Regions from separate parts of the Homo sapiens genome. Here region 2 is linked to region 1. The links come from fine-mapping of genetic effects on gene expression. A gene starts in region 1. The other region holds a variant in brackets. All regions are shown on one strand. Distances are between the middles of the regions. Region 1 holds the start of USP13 (ubiquitin specific peptidase 13). Region 2 overlaps USP13 (ubiquitin specific peptidase 13).

Region 1 (5,380 bases):
GTTTCACCATCTTGGCCAGGCTGGTCTTGAACTCCTGACCTCGTGATCCACCCGCCTCGGCCTCCCAAAGTGCTGGGATTGCTTCCTGGGTTCTTTACCACCAATTGATTTTTGGGCAGTCAGCTTTGTACCAGCCATGGTATAGTGACCTCCTTACTTAGACCCGTTCTTCTGCTGGAGCGTGGCGAGTGACAGGCGGCGCTGGTGTTGGAGAGCGATGGCTGAGTTTTAATTAACTTTTAAAGCAATACTTGAGGCCGGGCGCGGTGGCTCACGCCTGTAATCCCAGCACTTTGGGAGGCCGAGGTGGGAGACCAGACTGGCCAACGTGACGAAACCCCGTCTCTACAAAAAAAAAAAAAAAAAAACAACAAAAAATTAGCCTGGCGTGGTGGCGTGCATCTGTGGTCCCAGCTACTTGGAAGGCTGAGGCGGGAGAATCGCTTCAACCCAGGAGGCGGAGGTTGCAGTGAGCTGAGAGCGCGCCATTGCAGTCCAGCCTGGGCGACAGAGGGAGACTCCATCTCCAAAAAGAAAGGGGGGGAAAAAGCAATACTTGCACATAATACAAATGGAATCATACAGAAAGCTACAAAGTGGTAGTGTAGTAATCTGTTTTCACGCTGCTGACAAAGACATACCTGAGACCGGGCAATTTACAAAAGAAAGTTTTATTGGACTTACAGTTCCATGTGGCTGGGGAGGCTTCACAATCATGGTGGAAGGTGAAAGGCACGTCTCAGATGGAGGCAGACAACTGGAGAGAGCTTGTGCAGGGAGACTCACGTTTGTAAAACCATCAGCTCTTGTGAGACTTATTCACTATCACAAGAACAGCACGAGAAAGACCTGCCCCCATGATTCAATTACCACCTACTGGGTCTCTCCCACAACACGTGGGAATTCAAGATGAGATTTGGGTGGGGACACAGCCCTACCATACCAGGTAGTAAGTTCTCCCTTAACCTCAGGCTTTCAGTTCTTCTCCACAGAGCCTGACTAGTTTCTTGTGTATTGCTCTAGAGACATCCTAAAGCCAAACAAGTGGGCATGCATACACATATGTATATTTTAAGGGGCTACATTAAAAATATTTACTACAAGTACAACCAACTGGAATGAAGGCCCATGGTATATAGGATGTGCCAAAATGCCTACTGCATATTATCAGCCTTGCATGTATTCCTTGCTTTTATACACTAGTTTGCTTAAATTGCTTTTATCATCTAGTAATAATTTGGAGATTGTTCCACATCAGCACACGTAGAGCAACTTCATTCTTTTCAATGGTACTGTATTTTAACCACTTTCTACAGAAGGATCTTTAGGTTTTCCCCAGACGTTTGTTACTCGAAACAGTGCTCTAACAAATATCTTTACACAGCCTTAATTTATCTGTTGCATAAATGTCTAGACAAGGAAATGCTGGGGAAAACAGTATGCACATATAAAGTTATGACTGGTATTATTACATTTCCTTCCAAAGAGGTTTATCGTTTTTATCCCCACCAACAATGTAATGAGGGTCTACTTCCCAAACCCATGCTAACTCAATATATCTTTACCAGCCCAAAGGATGAAAAACAGTGTCTCACTGATTTAATTTGTATTTAATCTAAGATTAAATTTTAAGTTTTGTAAAACCAAGTTTATCTCTGTAATTGGAGAAAACATCATCCATTAACGTGAAAGGTAATAAGCTGATGAGACTAAATTCAAAGCAAAAGCTCGCTGAGAGGATCTGCCCAATGAGGAAGATGACAGTAGTGTCTGATTTTTTGCTCAGTGCCACCTCCTCCTTTTCCAACAGATAGCATTTGGGAGTGCTGAGTTATAAGAAAGTGTGGTGCGCTCGAGGCTTGCTTGAGGGTATGGAAATCTTGAGATAGGTCTGGAGAACCAGGGAGAGTTAAAAGAGAAAAAAAGTAAGAAAAAAAAAAGAACTTAAGGACTATCTGATCTGAGAGAGGCTTACAAAAATTAGCGTTTTGGTTCACTATTTCTCGCTATTTCTGCATTTCATTAACTGGCAGGGATCACTGGATACTCTGTCATGAATACATATGTTGGGTGTAGTTAGAGAACCTCAATGTCATTGAACCCGTCTTGTGGGTTTTTTGGAGAGAATGAGAGTATGCTGGGAGACATGCTCTGCTTGCAAATGATCAACCCCCGAGGCCAACCCCATTCATCATTTATTTTGAGGAACTGATGATCAAGACAGGAATATGTATGCCTGCCTACAAAATCCTCAAATCAGGCCACTGAATGTTCGACATGAGAACTTTGAATCACATAGAAGATACTCCAAAGGCAGAGAAAAATAGAAAGCCTTCCGACGCCCTGAAAAAATCTTGACCATCCCTGACTTCCCCCAATATGTAAGAAAACCTGTATTATTATTACACACACACTCCCACACACACCCCGCCCTCCCCCACACACACACCCTCTATCCTCACTCGATCTTATTCTATTCGCTCTATTTTTGAGCCTTGGATGTTAAAGTAAGGAACGAAGCTTAGTGGGGAAGCACTGAAGTGCATGGCGCAAATTTAGATTTAAGCCTCACGTTAGATTTCAGATTTGCACATCGAGTCCCGCCCCTATCCAATCCGGGGACGTCACCGCCCTAGTCTTCGGCTGTTTTAAAAGCAAGCGGTTTTTAAAACCCCCAATCCTGCTCTTTGTGTTGGCCTCCTCGGAGTTGCCCCTCTGCAAGCCAACAATTCGGGATAGAAAACACCTCCGTGGTGTTTTCCCGGGGCCCTCCCGCGCCGCGTTCGGCCGCCAGCCCGCTCGAGCTCCCGCGCCAACGCCTCAGGGGTTCGCCCTCCGCCCCCCGCCGCCGCGCCCGGCCCACGCGCAGGGCCCCTCTCCAGCGCCCCCTCCCCGGCACGCTGCGGCTGGCGCTCCCCAGCCCCGCCTGACGCTGCAGCTGGGCCGGAGACTCGCCATTGGATTAAAAATAGCGTCGCCAGTCCGCCCCAAGCCCGCGGTGCCCGCTCCCGCCCCGCAGCCCGCTCTCCCCGCCCGCCCCGGCTCGGCCGGCTGCCGTTGCCCGCGCAGCCCGCCCGTCAGCCCGCTCGCTGGCGCCGCCGCCGCCGGCAGACCCCGCGCTCCGGCTCCGGCTCGGCTCGCTCGGCTCCGGTGCGCGCCGAGGCCATGCAGCGCCGGGGCGCCCTGTTCGGCATGCCGGGCGGCAGCGGAGGCAGGAAGATGGCTGCAGGAGACATCGGCGAGCTGCTAGTGCCCCACATGCCCACGATCCGCGTGCCCAGGTCCGGCGACAGGGTCTACAAGAACGAGTGCGCCTTCTCCTACGACTCTCCCGTAAGTGAGGCGCCTCGGGGGAGGGTCGCGGGGCCGGCGGCCTGCGGCACGTGAAGCCGGGGGAGAAGATGCGCAGTGGCGGCCGGGACCTCTTCTCTTCCTCCGGGCGGCAGAGTTGGCTCAGGAACACTGCAGTTCGGCAGACACTTAGTGAGCGCCCCAGGGCTGCTGCAGCCGAGGACTGGCTCGTGCTGGTGGTTTTGCTCCGCCAGCCTCCCCAGGCTGGAAGGGCCCGATTCCCAGCAGCTTGCACACAGCCCCGCCGCCGTTTAAAGATAGATGAAATACAAGAGTTCCCTGTTCCGAACTGCACGTTGCAGATCGTTTGCGTCCTCCGCGGGGCAGAGCGCAGGGCGGGTAGGTGGACGGGATGATCCCCCCACACCCCGGGACACACACAGCCCTTCTTTTTCTGGGACCACTTGCTTTGCTCAGGGATCCCCACTTCTGGACAATTCTGATTTGCTCTCTGAGCTTTTCTTCCACCAGTTCCCATTTCACCCCACTCCTTTTCTTGTCTTTAGAATGTCAGGGCCAGGCGCGGTGGCTCACGTCTGAAATCCTAGCACTTTTTAAGAGGCGGAGGCGGGCGGATCGTTTGAGGTCAGGAGTTCGAGACCAGCCTGGCTAATATGGCGAAACCCCATCTCTACTAAAAAAGAACCCCAAAATTAGCCGGGCGCGGTGGCGGGAGCCTGTAGTCCCAGCTACTCGGGAGGCTGAGGCTTGAGAATCGCTTGAACCGGGAAGGAGGAGGCTGTAGTGGGCCGAGATCGCGCCACTGCCCTCCAGCCTGGGCGACAGAGCGAGACTCCGTCTCAAAAAAAAAAAAAAAAAAATGTCAGACGAAACCTTCCGGTGCCTCCACTCGGGCAGCAGAAATAGGGGATCTACTGGATTGCGATGGTTTTCTTAAGCCTTCCCCACCTTGCCCTTCTAAATGAGTCACTTGGACTGACATGCGCAAGTATAAATTATTAAAAGTTCAATCCCGAGTCGTGACCTCGGAGAATGAGGAGGAAGCTGAGAGGGATCGCCGCCTTCCACCCGGGGCGGTTGGTGGTGGTTTTCACCTGGTTCTATGTGAATGTGTGAGAAGCAGCAGGAGGGTGAATGTCCCTTTCAAAAGTCAAAATGGGCTTCAAAGTGACTCAGCTGTCTGGCGTTTATCATGTCTTTTTGAGGACCAGGTTATTTTTATCCACCCACTTTAGATCTCATATGTCACCCGGCAGATCTCAATGCATTGGGAGGCGCATGGATTGGATGGACCGAGGCAGGTCTCGCAATGGTCTAATGTATTTTATTCATAGCATGTGGACTATTGTCAGAGGGGAAAAGAAAAGTCCAAATGAGCGGCAACATTTCCAAAGTTTCCTTTATTATCTGTGGGTTGATTTTGGCTGGCTTCAAAGCACTTTTGCTCGACACACACTGGAGTATCAGAGTTAGTATCCTCTCTGTGACATTTAGTTTTTTTATTTATGGTAACTCCATATCATTTGAGGGATGAAACCTAACTTAATTTTTGATTGTTTACTTTTTTTTTCTTTCGAAAAGATCCACAGAGTGGAGTGTGACAATCGGCAGTCCTTTTTTAGGATGTTATCCATAAATTATTTGAAAATGCCATTTTCAGATTGTATGGCCAGTGTTGGGCAGTTCCCACTAATAGCTTCTAAAGGTGGAGAGGGATGATGGTCCTAACTTAAGCAATTGACAGATTGTTACCTCCAGGAAGAAGAAAGTGGCCTAAGTTTTTTAGGATAGCACAACATGGAAAGTGGGTCAAATGACTTTCCCCATGTTTTGATTTGGGCTCTTCTTCAAGTTCTGCTTACAAACTTTGCTCTTGGAAGTTTTTGCTGCATAATGCAGTGGATAACAGGTGTGGGAAAAAAGGCTGATTGTTTTAATTCATTTCCACAAATAGTTATTGGGAGCTTACTGTGTGTGTTTCTAGAATGTTACTATTCTAGAAACATCTCGTCCAGTGTAGACTGATGATTGCAATCATATCACAGCAGTTCCTTAGGGGAGACTGGGA
Region 2 (5,380 bases), 21 kb after region 1:
AAATCTCAAGATATTCTCTTATTAATATCAAATTATTGGCCGGGCGCAGTGGCTCATGCCTGTAATCCAGCAATTTTTTTATTTTTTTATTTTTTTTGAGACAGATTCTCGCTCTGTCACCTAGGCTGGAGTGCAGTGGCATGATCTCCGCTCACTGCAACCTCTGCCTCCTGGGTTCTAGCGATTCTTCTGCCTCAGCCTCCCGAGTAGCTGGGATTACAGGTGTGTGCCACCATGCCTGGCTAATTTTTGTATTTTTGGTAGAGACGGGGTTTTACCATGTTGGCCAAGCTGGCTCGAACTCCTGACCTCAGGTGATCCGTCTGTCTCGGCCTCACAAAGTGCTGGGATTACAGGTGTGAACCACCATGTCCGGCCAATCCCAGCACTTTCGGAGGCCAAGATGGGTGGATCACTTGAGATCTGGAGTTCGAGACCAGTCTGGACAACATGTCGAAACCCCGTCTCTACTAAAAATACAAAAATTAACCAGGTGTGGTGGTGGGCACCAGTAATCCCAGCTACTTGGGAGGCTGAGGCAGGAGAAACCCTTGAACCCGGGAGGCAGAGATGGCTCCACTGCATTTCTGGGCAACAGAGTGAGACTCTCTCAAAGATAAAAAATTAAAATCTCAAGTTATTGCCACCATGCTTTACTTTGAGTAGTGGGAATATACAGCCCCCATAAAGCTGTGTGGTTGGGAAGCCAGGTTTGAGAAAAGGGAGCATATCTAAATACATTCAGTTAAAAAACTTTTATTTATATTTTAATTAAAAAATGAATCTATGTTCCTGAAGAGAAATTTAAAAATACCAGAAGAAAACAGGAAGAAAAAAAATTCCCACATTGTCTCCCCATGCTGAGATAACAACATACGCCAGGAAGAGTGTGCATGTCATGTATATTATAACATCATACACAGTGTTTTGTTACCTGCTTTCTTAGCCCAAAAATACTATGTACTTATTTTTCTATCAGTAAATACTCATCCACAAGTCAATTTTAAATAGCTGAAGAGTGTTACATTTCATGGAGGTACCATAAATTATTTGGCAAATCTGTTCTTGGCCATTTGGGTTACTTCTTTTTATAATTACAAGCAGCTCATTTGGTTAATTTTTTTTTCCTGTCCGCTCTTTTTTGAGTCGATGTTCTAGAAAATACGGTGTTCTGGTCTTCTTGGCCTTCCTTTTCCAAGGGTGTGTGAGTCACCGTCTTCCCGCGGTGTTAGTATGTGATTTGTCCTGGCGTGGATTTGTTGTGACTCCATCTACCTACATCATGTTTCTCTTTGCAGCAATGACCGCTTGTTTTCCACAGGAGACACTGTTCTGTAGTTATAAAAACAAGTGTTACGCAGCGACTGTTTCCTGAGCGCGTTGCTCACATAAGCTCATGCTCCCTTCCTGTCTTCCAGTGGGAAGGCTGGTTGCCAAGAAAACATCATCATAAACAAAGTTCTCTGAACACCTACCGATTGACAAAGTAGTGTATTTTTATTTAAAATGACTATTCACTTGCTACTCTGAAACATGTTGCAATCTTGACCTTTATATTTGCCACCGTTTTAACATTCTTTTAAACGGCAGGCAATATAAAATCAGTGACTTTGTCTTTGATGTTATTTCTGAATAGTACATAGAGGGATACAATACAAAGTAGCAAATGAATGGCTAAGTATATACTGTATGTATATTGAAATGCATTGAAGACAGGATTTTAACAATACATGGGGCTTCTAATGCTGCTCCTTTCTTTTTCTTTTTTTTTCTTTTTTTTTTTTTGAGACAGTGTGTCGCTCTGTTGCCAGTCTGGAGTGCAATGGCGCGATCTTGGCTCACTGCAATCTCTGCCTGCCGGGTTCAAGCAATTCCCCTGCCTCAGCCTACTGAATAGCTGGGACTACAGGTGTGTACCACCATGCGCGGCTAATTTTTTTGTTAGCTGGGACTACAGGTGTGTACCACTATTCCCGGCTAATTTCTTGGTATTTTAGTAGAGATGGGGTTTCACCATGTTGGCCAGGATGGGCTTGATCTCCTGACCTGCCTCCCAAAGTGATGGGATTACAGGCGTGAGCCTCTGAACCCGGCCAGTGCTGCTCCTTTCTTACCGTTTGATTATGGGGCTGGAGAAGTTGTCAAGGGAAATCATTATAGAGCCCTGTGCAGTATTTCTTGACTTTCTTCTGATTTTGGATGTCAAAGTCTTGCATCTTGGTCAAATTTCTGGTTAGTGCATCATAAAAATGATCATTAGAATCCTATTTAGCTTAGGATTGTGCACAGAACTGCACATTGGTCATTCTGGGCTGGGTGTCCTCTGAGCACCGGAGGCAGGTAGGATCCAAGGTGGGACGGTGGTGCAGAGAAGGCAGCCACTTTCCTGAAGAACCATGTGAGACTGGCTTGGTTACAGCAGGTGGGAGAGCTGGGGCAGTAGGGTTCAAGTGTCCAGGCTGCTAAGAGTGACTTCAGCCAAACAAACCTGAAAAGCTAGAATTTCTGCTGGTGCCTCAGGCTGTTTTTCTATGCGTGGCCATGAGTTTTATTTTGAGAATTCCCATTGTTTAGTCGTGCCAGAGACTTTAAGTGGAAGCTGTATTATGATGCATTTTAAATTCAGATCAGAAGGGCACTGAGGAATAGTTTGAGAGAGAGAGACCCAATAACAAATAGTGGAGACAAAAACTATCATTCATCCTACAAAAGTTTGTTCAATCCTGCCCTGTAGCAGGTACTGTTTTTGGGATTCAGTGGTGAATATGACACAGTTTTCCTGCCCCCCCTGCCCTGTACCAGGTACTATTTTTAGGATTCAGCAATAAATGATACAATTTTCCTGCCTTCAAGGAGCAAATGTGTATTTCAGCTTCTAAAGGTACTGGCGGCAAACTCAAGGAAGCCTGGGTTTCTCATAGCGATAGATTTCAATGAGCATGACACTGATTGTGAAATGAAAGCAGATTTAGGGTCAAGGACTGTCAGAAGAGGGGCTGAGCAGGGAGATGTGGGAGTAGTTCCTGGGCAGAGACTGGCAGAGTGTGGCGTTTGGGAAGCGCCTGCAGTGAGGAGGCATTGATGGGGCTGCTGTGAAGGCTGCAGGCCTGACCTTGTGTCCTGAAAGTCTTTTAGATAATGCTTTCCTGGCGGGT[G/A]AGACACTCTTAGACTTGGGCCGAGTTCACCTAGCCCTAGACAAGTGCTACCTAAAGTGTGTCAGCTGACTGGGCTGAGAGATGAGTACAACACTAAGAGTAGTGTTTCGAGATTTCTTTCTTTCGTTTTTTTCTTGAGACGGAGTTTCGCTCTTGTTGCCCAGGCTGGAGTGCAATGGCGCGATCTTGGCTCACCGCAACCTCCGCCTTTCGGGTTCAAACGATTCTCCTGCCTCAGCCTTCCTGAGTAGCTGGGATTACAGGCATGTGCCACTACGCCCGGCTAATTTTGTATTTTTAGTAGAGGCGGGGTTTCTCCATGTTGGCCAGGCTGGTCTCGAACTCCTGACCTCAGGTGATTCACCCGCCTCAGCCTCCCAAAGTGTTGGGATTACAGGTGTGAGCCACTGCGCCCGGCCTGTTTTGAGATTTGTATAGCAACTTGACATTGCAGCCACAGCCAAGTGTGTGACCAGTGGATCTGTTTGCCCAGGACATAGACCAGTTTGGGTTTTGTGGAACTTAAGGTGTGTGGTGAGTAAGACCATATCTGGCTGGAGCTTTGAACTAGTCATGTGCAGTGGGAACATGTGTCTTTCCTTAACAAATGAAAACAACACAAAACAAAAAACAAAAACAACCTCATCCATCGTGACAATAGTTGGAGAAGCACCACTGTAGACCAAGCAAGACTCATTACACACAATTCATAACTTTGTCTTTTTAAATAATGTTGCAGTATTTTCTTGTGCTTATATGTCACAGTTTCTTAACTCCTCTATTTGGGGCCATTGCTACATTATTTTATTATAGATACTGCATGTGTGAATATTTTTGCACAAATTAGTTTTTTTTTTTAATTCTTCTCTCGGGCCTGTACCCAGAGGGGAAATACTGTGCCAAAGGGTCACTGTTTTTTTGCTCTCTAGAAAGGCTGAGCCGATTTATATTGTAGGAGAGGATATACGGGTTTTCTCTGTGGCTTCAGGCTGTGCAATTTTAACAGTTTTTGCTGGTTTATGAGGCATGTACCTGTGCCTTGAGATTGTTTTAATATGCCTACTTAAGGGGGTTGTGAGGATGTGATGGTTTGATTTTAATATTTTCTCACATTGGAAACTAAATGGTTTTTTAAAAAATTCTTTCCTAGCACTTTGGGAAGCCGAGGCAGGTGGATCGATCACAAGGTCAGGAGATTGAGACCATCCTGGCTAACACGGTGAAACCCTGTCTCTACTAAAAATACAAAAAATTAGCCAGGCATGGTGGCGGGCGCCTGTAGTCCCAGCTACTCGGGAGGCTGAGGCAGGAGAATGGTGTGAACCCGGGAGGTGGAGTTTGCAGTGAGCAGAGATCACGCCACTGTACTCCAGCCTGGGCGACAGAGTGACACTCCATCTCAAAAAAAAAAAAAAATTTCTTAAGTTGAACTTGAATGTTGACATTCCCTTTTAAAAGTGGGCTGAATATATGAGTCTGCTCTTTTTAGTTTTGTAATTGCTTATTTCTTGGATCTATTTGGACTTTATTACCATGTTTCGTATAAGTTGTAGATCTAGGTTAATTTTCTTCTATACTGATGTTAATTTTCCTAGTAACTTTTATTGGTGATTCTTTTCTGCATTTTTGTATCTCCTGTGATTTGACATATATTAAATAGTTATCTTAGAATGAATATATTTGTGGGGCCTCCATTCTTATGCTACCATTAATATTTTAAAAAAATTTACCCAATGCTATATGAGTTTTATCTGTAACCTATTTTATTATTATTATTATTATTATTATTATTGAGATGGAGTCTCGCTCTGTTGCCCAAGCTGGAGTGCAGTGGCATGATCTCAGCTCACTGCAACCCCTGCCTCCCGGGTTCAAGGAATTCTCCTGCCTCAGCCTCCTGAGTAGCTGGGACTAGAAGCGTGTTCCGCCACGCCTGGCTAATTTTTGTGTTTTTAGTAGCAATGAGGTTTCACCATGTTGTCCAGGCTGGTCTGGAACTCCTGGCCTCAAGTGATCTGCCCATCTTGGCCTCCCAAAGTGCTGGGATTACAGGCTTGAGCCACTGTGCCCAGCCTGTAATCTATTTTAATTTAATAGAGCTGTCTACCACCATTACTTTAAAAAAAGTTTTATTTTGTATCCTGCCTGATATGGTTTGGCTGTGTCCCCACCCAAATCTTATCTTTGAATTGTAGTTCCCATAATCCCCACATGTCGTAGGAGGG

Evidence for each region. PIP is the estimated chance that this variant, and not a neighbour inherited with it, causes the effect. A credible set is the group of variants that fine-mapping cannot tell apart.
Region 2: its variant is the best candidate, but not a certain one, in a credible set for the expression of USP13 in thyroid (GTEx, PIP 0.67).

The regions. Positions count from the first base shown.
Region 1 is chr3:179,650,061-179,655,440 of GRCh38, forward strand. USP13 (ubiquitin specific peptidase 13) reads left to right here and starts at 2,980. Exons shown (of 21, transcript NM_003940.3): 1 at 2,980-3,333. The coding sequence starts at 3,166. It also overlaps the pseudogene H3P13. RefSeq lists silencers at 2,712-2,791, 2,802-3,141 and an enhancer at 2,810-3,453.
Region 2 is chr3:179,670,619-179,675,998 of GRCh38, forward strand. All of the region lies in intron 1 of USP13 (ubiquitin specific peptidase 13), which reads left to right. Among named protein-coding and RNA genes, the nearest start is that of USP13, 20 kb to the left of the region's middle. The variant G/A (reference allele first, on the strand shown) is at 3,156.